Regions from separate parts of the Homo sapiens genome. Here region 2 is linked to region 1. Evidence: fine-mapped expression QTL. A gene starts in region 1. The other region holds a variant in brackets. All regions are shown on one strand. Distances are between the middles of the regions. Region 1 holds the start of PLCL1 (phospholipase C like 1 (inactive)). Region 2 overlaps PLCL1 (phospholipase C like 1 (inactive)).

Evidence for each region. PIP is the estimated chance that this variant, and not a neighbour inherited with it, causes the effect.
Region 2: its variant is the best candidate, but not a certain one, in a credible set for the expression of PLCL1 in monocytes after Pam3CSK4 (Quach 2016, PIP 0.53).

Annotation. Positions count from the first base shown.
Region 1 is chr2:197,801,483-197,806,866 of GRCh38, forward strand. PLCL1 (phospholipase C like 1 (inactive)) reads left to right here and starts at 3,111. Exons shown (of 6, transcript NM_006226.4): 1 at 3,111-3,857. The coding sequence starts at 3,618. It overlaps LOC105373828 (a long non-coding RNA gene), which reads right to left and starts at 3,064. Exons shown (of 4, transcript XR_001739850.3): 1 at 2,227-3,064; 2 at 256-337. RefSeq lists a silencer at 3,158-3,287.
Region 2 is chr2:198,105,703-198,111,086 of GRCh38, forward strand. All of the region lies in intron 5 of PLCL1 (phospholipase C like 1 (inactive)), which reads left to right. Among named protein-coding and RNA genes, the nearest start is that of LINC01923, 270 kb to the right of the region's middle. The variant A/G (reference allele first, on the strand shown) is at 2,357.

The sequences.
Region 1 (5,384 bases):
TTATTGGTTGTATTTCAGTCTAATTCTAGATTTCAAGTCATTCCAATTAATAAGTGCCCTTCTTCTGAGATTTGTAGCTGCTTGGTGTGGATCTGTTCTGATTTCTGCTCTAAAATGGAATTCTAGGATCCTTGAGGATGAGAAGTTCTACCATGCAGACAGTGACAGAACCATTTTTCTTTATCAGATTGATTATTTTATTTAGTCACAGGACTGCAAAAGTCCTCTGTCCATAAATATTTATTGAGCACTTACTCTGTTCCAGACATAGTTCTGGGAGCTGGAGATACAGCAATGAATAAAATCGCAAGGTCTTTAGGCACATGGAGATGGCATTCTACATTTCAGTGAAGCAGAGATAGGGGGAAAGTAAAACAGAATATGTAAGTAAACAATTCCACGGAAAAGACAGTTTGTTCACAGTGATAAAATCCTGTGAGAAGACAAAACACAATATGACTGACATGTACTGAGGCTTGTAGGGGCAACTTGAGATTTGTAGTTAGAGAGTCCTTTCTGACGTAGTAACATTTGAATTTCCTGCTCGTTACTATTATTCATATCTTACCTTCCTACCCCTGCTCACCCCCAAATTCCAATCTGCCAATCTAGCAATTGTCACCATGACTTGGTAAAAGGTTGGGAGGCAAGAATTGTAGGTGACAGCTATTTGGAAAGAGGGACTGTTAATGCAGGGGTAGGAATGTGCCCATGGCTGCTGACTTAACTGAAACTAGCTAGTCTCTTTCAGTTTTTGAAGTGGGTCCACAAAGCAGAATCTGCTCCTGGCTAGGAGCAAGTACATAGGAGGGGTTTTTTTTTTTTCAATTGCAAACATGAGTATCAGGAAAAGCCTTCTGAGCTTATGCTGGAACACAACAATATAAACGACTTGCTAGATTAGGGTCCAACTAGTTTATCAAAGCAGAGTAATTTAGACAACAATCTTTACGGATAGAGGCTCAGAGCAAAGGAATCAGAGGGGTGTGTGTGTGTGTGTGTGTGCACTTTCACATGAGGGTGAGAGGGAAGGATGCCAAGGAAGAGAAAAGAGTCCAACTAGACATTGTCTAGTTGAAAGATACAACATTTTGCAAGTTATATGCTGTACTTTCTGGCCTCTGTTTTTTTTTAAATCACTGACCTTGAATGTTTGTTAATAAAGTGATGCTAATTTTAAAATTTGTAAAAATAAATTATTATCATAATGGTACACAAATCTGTAGGATGAGGAACTTATAAATGACATTAATATCCTATAACAAGATAATGAGTGAGATAAAGGCAGTTTTACATTTTTCAGAGGACAACCGAAGAATGGGACTTTTATTAGAGTAACAAAGAAAAATGAAGCACTGACAACTGTAAATGACAGAAGTCAAATGTAATAATAGTTGAATATCAAAGAAAAAAATGATAGCCTAAAATAAGATATATTTCTGAGGATAGCAATTAAAAATATTTCCTATATAGCATAGACAGGAATTCCCTGAACTAAAGGAGATGGAAGACATGTATGGTTGTTTTAAGTCTGGGTACACTTTATTTTCTTCCTCTAGTCTGTGCGTTGTAAAGGCATACCTGTTGAAAAGGAAACTTTTGTTGGGTTACCCCTCCTGTCTTTTAAAGATGAGGGGGAAAAAGAAGCCTTTGCTGTTATGGATGCAGTTCTCAGAATCTCACTAGAGGGTGGTGTTGGTTCTAAAACCAGAGGTCACTGCTACTCTCTACAGTACATTCATTACTAGGCTGCATTTATGTTTAAAGAAAAGGCAAAGTCAAGCCTTCTCAGTATTCCCTAGTAGTTGATAAATGTCAAATCTGAAACCTCCCAAGTGCCCCTGCCAGTTCTGGCTGGTTGTAGCCCAGAGGAGACAGATAAAGTAGTGAAGAGATTATCGGAGGAGTTGGGTGGCTGATTCTAATTTTGGCTCCTGCACTAACTAGTAGACAAGACTCCCTGGGCCTTTGTCTCAACCGTAAAACAAAAATGATGTCCTAGTTGATCCCTAAATCCCCATATATCTCTAAAATTATGAGATTCAAACCAAATTGTTGGTCTAAAATGCTGAATAATTTCTCATGCTGTTAGCCAGACTAAGGAACAAGTAAAATCTCAAATTATTAAATTATTAATAAGATAAAATGTAATGTTATAAGTGAGGTTTAATATAGATTCTAATATCAAAGGAGTTTAAAATTAAAATGCCAAGTCTTTTGTCTTACCAGGGAGCCTTAGGACCATGGTTTGCATCTGAGCATTCTGTGGATAATTTCAGTGACTTAACTCATCATCCAAAGATCTCTCCCTTCTTGGTTGCTAGCTTACTGGAAATGAGCAAAATATGTTTTTATATAGGATTATATAGAGAAAGGAGGCTGAACCATTGTCAAATAGGAATGTTTTAGGATAGAGACTAAACTCCCCACCTGCATTTATCTGACTTGGATTATATCTGTGCTTTTTAAGAGTCAGTCTTCGGAGGGATTTAGTTGGTTCAGTTTCCTTTCACCCTCATCTCTTTCACTGACTCCCTTTCCTTGTTATATTTACTCACACTGCAGAATGACCTTAGAATCCTTTCCTGGAACCTGAAGCAAATTATGGAACCCCAAGATCCCAGTAAACCCTAGTTTATCTCTGCATGGACTTGACTTCTAAGAATTGGCCTGAGAGCCTGCAATTAACCTGTGACCACGCAAAGCTTCACCCCGTCACCCCAAACGCTTAGACATTCATACTCAATACCCACTTTCCTCCAAATTGCTTTGTTTGGCAGAAGAAGGTTTCTTTCTCCCCTCTCCTTCACCCAACCTGGATTTTTGTTGCATCTCAGGCTCATTTCGCAAATCTAAACTTCCTAAAATATACACGGAGCGCCTCCGGGTTTGCACACGCGCGCGCGCGGGTACACCCTGGCTCGAGTACATTAGCCCCGCTGGGCCGGCTCCCAGTTGCAGAACACATTCCATTCTTCGCGCTCGGGCACACCCCTCCGCAGTGAGGATTGGTCGGGCCGAGCCCCCTCGGCGAGGCGAGGCTCCTAAGAGGCCCAGACGCCTGCCAATCCCCAAGGGCTGTCAAAACAAGTCTCCCTCCCTGTCACAACAGAGCTGAGTGGAGGCCGCCGCCGCCGCCGCACTTCCTGGGACCGCTGCGCCGCAGTCCGCGGGCAGGTGGCGGGTGCGCCCGGCCGCAGTCGCCCGGCTCTGGCCCCTATCGGGCCGCCGGCGTCCGGGCTCCAGAGGCCGCCTGGCTGGGCGCCCGGTGCCTTTTGTCTGGCGCAGGGCCGGCGTTTGCATCACATTTCGGATACCTCCCTCTCTTTTTCGCCTCTCCTTCTGCCTCCCGCTCACATCGCCTCCCCACTCCCGCCACCGTCCCCCGCCGGACTGCTAGCCTCCTAGACCGAAGCCCGAGGACGTCTCTGCCCGAGCGATGTCCCCTCTCCAGAAAGTTGCCGCCGCCGCCGCCGCCGCCGCCACTGCCGCCGCTGGGCGGTGAAACAAAGTCTGGCGGGGCCGCCTCCCGGTGCAGGAGCGCACCGGTGCCTAGCGGCTGGACTCCGCTGCCGGGCGTCCCGCTTTCCCCCGGGGAGCCCTAAACGCTCCAGGCCATGGCCGAGGGCGCGGCCGGCAGGGAGGATCCGGCGCCGCCCGACGCGGCGGGGGGCGAAGACGACCCCCGAGTGGGCCCGGATGCCGCCGGGGACTGCGTGACGGCGGCCTCTGGGGGCCGGATGAGGGACCGTCGCAGCGGGGTCGCACTGCCAGGCGCCGCGGGGACCCCAGCGGACAGCGAGGCGGGCCTCCTGGAGGCAGCACGGGCGACCCCCCGGCGCAGCAGCATCATCAAGGTAAGCAAAGCCGCGCCGCACCGGGAGCGTGGCTGTGGGTGATGGGTGGGTCAGGGACCCGGGCAGGATGTGCGGTGTCCGGAGGCATCCGGGCTCAGCATTGTTTTCTCCCACCTCCTTCAACGCCAAACCTTCCTTCCTTATCCGGAGGTTCCCAGACTCAGCTGTCAGCCACGAGACGCACAAGTGACTTTTTCTCCCCACTGACGGCAGAGGAAAAGTTCCGCTCTGCGTCTTTGCGTTCTGATGGATGCTTTCCCTCATTTTCTCTGCAAGCTTCACTAAACCGTTGATGGAGGGAGGAAGGGAGAACTCTGGATAAATGCAGACCCACCGGATGGTTGTGCATTGCTTTCCAATGAAGGGTTAGCTTTTCCCATACAATGAAGAAAATGCACAGCTTACTCTCAAGTGTAAAAAAAGAATCCCTCTAGACTTAAATGATCCCGAAATCCCAAGATGTGTGAACTTTCCCGGTAGGGAGGCAGAGTTTTAAGTGGACCCTGCATCACAGTAAAGAGCAATGCAAGAGCCCAGAGTTTTTGCGCTGCAGAAAGCACAACCGGAAAGCAATCAATCCCCCAAGCATTATCACTGGTCCTTGTGGTTACCACCACATCCAGGGAAAACGCTTCCTGACCCGCTAATCACCTCACAGAATTTCTCTCCATCCATTTGGCAAGGAATTTGTAAACCTCTTTCCTCCCCTTTCTCTTTCCATCTTCCTTCCACTTGGGGCTTGTTTCTTCTGTTCGAGATTTCCTCTTTTGGGAGCATGACTTTGGGGTAAGGTTATTTAGGAAAGAACCCTCGCACAGGCTCTGGAAAAGGGCCTCAGTGTAAATGCATGTGAGTAATCAATCAAATGTATGTCAGATTAAAATTGATTTTGGTGGAGCAGTCAGTATAAAACGATATGTATGTATGTATATATGTAAGTATATATGTGTGTGTGTACATACACACACACACATCCCTCAATGACAATGAAAGATGGACTTTTACTTACTATTGAATTTATTGGGTTCACTAATATATTCAAAAGCTCTGTTCAGGGTTAAGCTGCGTAACCAGTGCATCACGCATGTTGCAAGCTCCCAGCACCAGCTTAGGTAGACTAACCACAGAATGTGGCTCCAGTAAAGTCTTTTTCCCAACACTGACACATGGAAGTTTAAAATCAGTGGAGAGGTTTCTATAATATATAAAGAAGAGTGGGTGGTAATTACAAATGGCTTGTAGTAGTTTCTGTTATTTTGTGGCTTTTTGATTATGTAACAGGAGTGTTCTATTCTGGGTGTGAATTTGGACAAAGGGAAATTACTATTTTGTTTTTAACCCACAGGTCAGAAAGCACACTGTTTTCAAACTTAAAAAACATCACAATTAGGAAACACATACATTTTGGATTCTACTGTATTGATACTACATGGTGTCCTGTGTGTGTAAAACAGGCACTGCAAGAGACTTTAAAATATATGACAATAAAGAGCAAACGGCTCTATAATGTTGTAAAAAACAAAAGTA
Region 2 (5,384 bases), 300 kb after region 1:
ACAAATGCTTCTGGGGAAGATTCCAACACAAATGATTTTGAAGAGACAAAGTACAAAATATCTAGGGCCATTGAGGATTTTTATTTTAAGAACAGTTCCTATAAATACATTTCTTTTTGCAAATAACTTTGGAAGTCATTTTCTTGAGATTATGATTTGCTCTCTGCTGCACATGAATTTTAGAATTTTGAAGTAAATATGCCACTTTTTATATTTTCTTACATGAAAAAAGAAATGATTTAGGCAGACAATATATTCTTGACAGCTAAATGGGAGAAAAATAGCTACAAACAAAATTAATAATTGCTGACATTTAAAGAACACTCATTTTGTGCTAGGTACTGTTTTATGAGGTTTATATGAATTAACAATTTAATACTCACACCAACTCAGTATCGTTATTAATCTCATTTTACAGGTGAGAAAACGGAGGCATTGGAAGTCTGTGTATATTTCCTGAGGGCGCTCAGCTAGTAAATGGTGTAACTAAATTTTAAGCTCAGGCAGTCTGGCTCCAGACCCTGTGTCTTTAACCTGTGCTGCAGAGATGCTGCACATGTTTATGTGAAAGTGTTAGGTTAGCTGTAAGACATATTACAAATGTCTATTAAAAATTCAGTCCACAAGTGATAAGCCCCTACTATGCATTGGGCTCTGTGCTAGGCACTGGGAATACGTGGAGAACATGAGATACAGACCCTGACCTCATGAAGTTAGCAGTCTGAGTCCAGTGGAGGAGGGGGATGGATAAGGCATCATTTGCTTAAGGAGCAGGGATGACCTAGAGCTGTAGTGTTAAAGAGGTGCTTATTATAACCCTAGATTATAATGTGGCAGTGTGTACCCTGATATAAACATTTTATGTTCAGAAGATTTTATATGGGCTTGTTAATGTGCCTGTCACAGAAAGGTGCTAGGGATACAAATATCAGGAGGATTACCTGGGTCTCCAAGACTAGTCTATAAGGAGAGACAGACATGTAACTAATAATGGCCATCAATTGTTCAGCACTTATTTTGTGATCAGCACTCAAGGCTAGGTACTTTATGTACATTTCCCCTTTCTTCCTTGCCACAACAGTGCAATCTTGCAACATGACATGCTGACTCTGATAGGACTCTCTCCATCTCACAAATGAGGAAATTGAGGCTTGTGGGGGTTGAAATTTCTTGCCTGGAGTCACACAGCTAGTAAACAGCCAGCCTGCAATTTTTAACTCACGCCCATGGTTCTATCCACTACACTGTTCTGCCTCCTCTAAAACTCCATCCATGTGGCTGAGTCCCTGTATTAGTCTTTTCTCACGCTGCTAATAAAGACGTACCCGAGAGTGGGTAATTAATTTATAAGAGAAAGAGGTTTAATTGTCTCACAATTCAGCATGGCTGGGAGGGCCACAGGAAACTTACAGTCATGGTGCAAGAGGAAGCAAACATGTCCTTTTTCATATGGCAGCAGCAAGGAGAAGTGCTGAGCAAAAGGTGGAAAAGCCCTTTATAAAACCATCAGATCTTGTGAGAACTCACTCACTATTATGAAAACAGCATGAGGATAACCTCCCTTATGATTTGATTACCTCCCACCAGGTCCCTCCTACAACACGTGGGGATTGTGGGAACAACAATTCAAGATGACATTTGGGTCCAAACCATATCAGTCCCATTGGGTCCAGGCAGCCTAGTGCAGGAATAAGAATGCAGGCCCTGTGTGATTACCTGATAGTGGTGAGACTAGCCAAGTTATATAATCTCCCTCAGGGTAGTAATAATACCTACATCTCAGATTTTGTGAGAATTAAATGAGATAATACATACAAAAGATGTAAGTCACAGTGCACAAAACTAGACAGCATATATGTTAGCTGTTATTTGTTTGTTTGCCAGGTGAGGATAAACATGGAGAAATGAGGTTTTTGTTATTTTTATTTCTTTGTTAACTTCTGACTTAAGCCCACTTAGTGTTGTCAGAGATTTCTTAATGTTTTTGTTTGGTTTAGTAACAGAAGCTGATTGTTAGATGTGATTGAGCAAATGCTGTTCAAATTATTCCAAGAGAGAGCTTTTCAGACAGAATTGATTTTCTATTATTATAACTCACATACTAGCTGCTGGTATTTCAGCTTGAGCACTAGAGTAGTGGACTACTACTAAACAAGAGTAGAGAACATTTCCACACTTCCAATAGCTCCTTTTTCTCCTCCATTGAGTTTGGGGCCTGTTAATCTGGTGTCCTTTCCCCAAGAGCTGGACAAATGACCTCCTTTGAATTTGAATTATTAGCTGAGAGAAAAAGAGCCTGGGCTCTGTTGGAGACTTTTTATTCCAGTGGTGCTGCTCTAAGAAGATATCTTTTTCT[A/G]TACGATTCTTCCTTTAGTTCTTATGCATTAGATCTGAAACACTTGATTCCCAATTAATTCTCCAGACTTGCTATTGATTTTCAGAGCTCCTCTAAGTATTTTAATAAATGCTCTTTGTTTATAAGTTTAGTAGATTCAATTTACCTTGCTTCCAGTTGGTTGAATGATTAATAACCATCCTGGAAAGACATAATCACTGAATTAGGAGGCTGTGGTACAATTCTGCGTTGCCTACTGAAAAAGTTTCCTTATACATGATTTAGACTAGTATTCCCTACTATCTAGAGAGAGGGAGTGGGAATTAACCAATTCTGGTTAAATGTGTTGGTTTGTATTTCTAAAAATATTTAATTCCAGTGTAATTTCCAATAAGTAAGGAAGGAGCTGGAAAAAAATGAGAAATGTGCCCTCAGCAAGTTGGGGGATTGACAGCATGGAGTGGTGCAAAGGGGCATTGGCTTTAGAGTAAATTGAGCTGAGACTGAAAAATAAATTGTTTAGTGTTTTCTGCAGTTCAATATTACATTTATCTGATATTAAAAGCTGGAGAAAAAAATTGCAGAAAGAAAAATGACTAACGACAATATAATGAATAAGAATTATAATTACAGTGTCCAAATTGTTGCAGAGACCAGGACTTAGTATTTAGCAAGGAAACTGAAATCAAGGTGCTTCTGGAAGATCCCACACTTGTGTTTTTCTTTAATTCATATTCTAGCACCTACGTGGGTCCAGTATAGGGACTTGTTTAGCGTATCTTTTGCATTTTTCCATACTTTTGCCATATGTCTATATCCAACTGTAGCAGTCAATTTGCTCTTCCTTTCTTTCTTTTTCACTATTGTACATGAAATTGGTCTCCTTACATAGCCATTGTGTTTATTTAGGATGATAGGATGATTCAGTCCTCACTACCTTTTCAAGACAATCACTGGATCAAAATAACTCCATTCCATTCCACCCTCACATGTTAAAAGACCTTTCCCTCTGTTTCTTCTCCATGATGTCCTTCTTGTGCTGATATAATAAAATACCTGAGACTGGGTAATTTATAAACAACAGAAATTTATTTCTCACAGTTCTTGGGGCTGAGAAATCCAAGATCAAGGCAGGAGTGGATTTAGTGTCTGGTGAGAGCACAGTCTCTTCTTCCAAGATGGTGACTTCTTGCTTCGTCTTTCAGAGGGGAGGAACGGTGTCTCCTCAAATGGCTGAAGGGAAAGAAAGGCAAAAGAAGGTAAAAGGGCCTAGCTAGTTCCCTCCAGCCCTTTTACAGGGCACTAATCACCTCCTAAAGGCCTTACCTCTTGATATTATTGCATTGGGGATTAAGTTCCAACATGAATTTTGGAAGGGACACAAACATTCAAACTATAGACATTTGGTTGTTAACATAATATTAAAATCTCAAAATGGAAATTTTTCCTGTTTTTTAAGGCTTTCAGAAAGGGATACTACAACTTCACTTACGTAGCCAACATATTCTAGTACATTGTTAGTAATTTTGGAAGTGTTTCACTCATGAGAGTTCTGAAGATCTCTTGGGAGCAAGATGTGGAATTACACTATATCACTGATAAAATGCTATTTGCAATGAAGTGGAATTCATCTAAAGTCTTGAACTCTATCCAGAGTGATTTGACTTTTTAAGTACAAAAAGAACTGCATTGTAAAGGTGATCACATCTATAAAACTGAAATTAGAAAGAACCCAAGGGGAGCATTTTAGTGAGCTTTCCCAATATATATTTTTCTAACTTGTCCTGTTGGCTATTTTAAGAAACTAAATTTTATTACTTTGTGTTTTTAAAAGTTTTATGTAAAAATCAATTTTAGCAGGCTGGAGAAGTATCAAGTAGAGATATATAAAAATAATATTAAAGAAATATAATTAATAAATATTTTATTACAAAGGAAAAACTATGAAGTAGGTAATCACTAGAGCTTAAAGAGAAATAAAAGGGTTAAGAAGTAGCTGCCCTTCTTATTTATTCATGACTTTCATTGATTACTTGTTGAATAACAGGCAATAAATAAAAAATGAATATAACTATTACCTCTTCAATGGTCATTCCTATTAAATATGTATTTACACTTTTCCTGGATAGATTTCCAACTTATAATTTAATGCATTCCAATGTGTGCCATGATTCTGGGCTGCTTTTATAAATTTATGTTTAGTATATGTGACTATTACTTTTCCCCATAACGCTTTTGCTTTTTATCACTACTTAAGCCTTTGCTCCTTCTGCTTTTATCTAAAACATTTTCAATTTCCGTGGGAAGAGCAGAGATTGAAGCTTCTCACTTCTCCGTGTGTAGTTATGTTTCTAACCCAGGCAGATTCCCTCACTGAATTCCCGAATTTCAGGACCTTACAGTTCTGGGGAATCTTGCTACAACAGAGGAAATTACATGGATGTCAGTGTAGAAATACGCTTTCAATTAGAGCCTGAAAACACATTTGAAGTCTCTGTTCATTGTTGAGAGACAAAAGAAAGGAAACAGATGATGGGCTAATGGGAAAAGAAGTATGAGGAGAGGCATCCATCTCTGAAAGCTGAGTGAGAGTGAGAAGTGGGCTACCCTTCACTTACTGGCCATAGATATTTAAAATCATTCTATGAGATACTGTGGAGAGGGGGCTGTTAGTGTGAATGTTCAAACCAGGCTCTTCCAACAGACATAGTGACCATGCCTTTGGGGGCTGCCTGAGGGTATATAAAGAAGGAACATGCCCAGTATCATCCACATTGTCTATTGAGAACTTTTCCAGTGGTGTCTCTGGCATCTGCCAGCTGTTGTTGCTGTAGAATCTAGAGAAAGGCTAGGATTCCTTTTGAGTATTCAGAAAAAAAAGTATATTTACAAAGTGTAGAAACAGACCTCCAAACAACAACAATAATGCATTAATAATAAACCATCCTTAATATTGATATTATTATACTATCAATTATTGAGAAACAGCAGGCAAAGTGATTAAGTGTACAGACGCTGCAGCCAGACACTTCCTAGCTCTGTGTCTTTG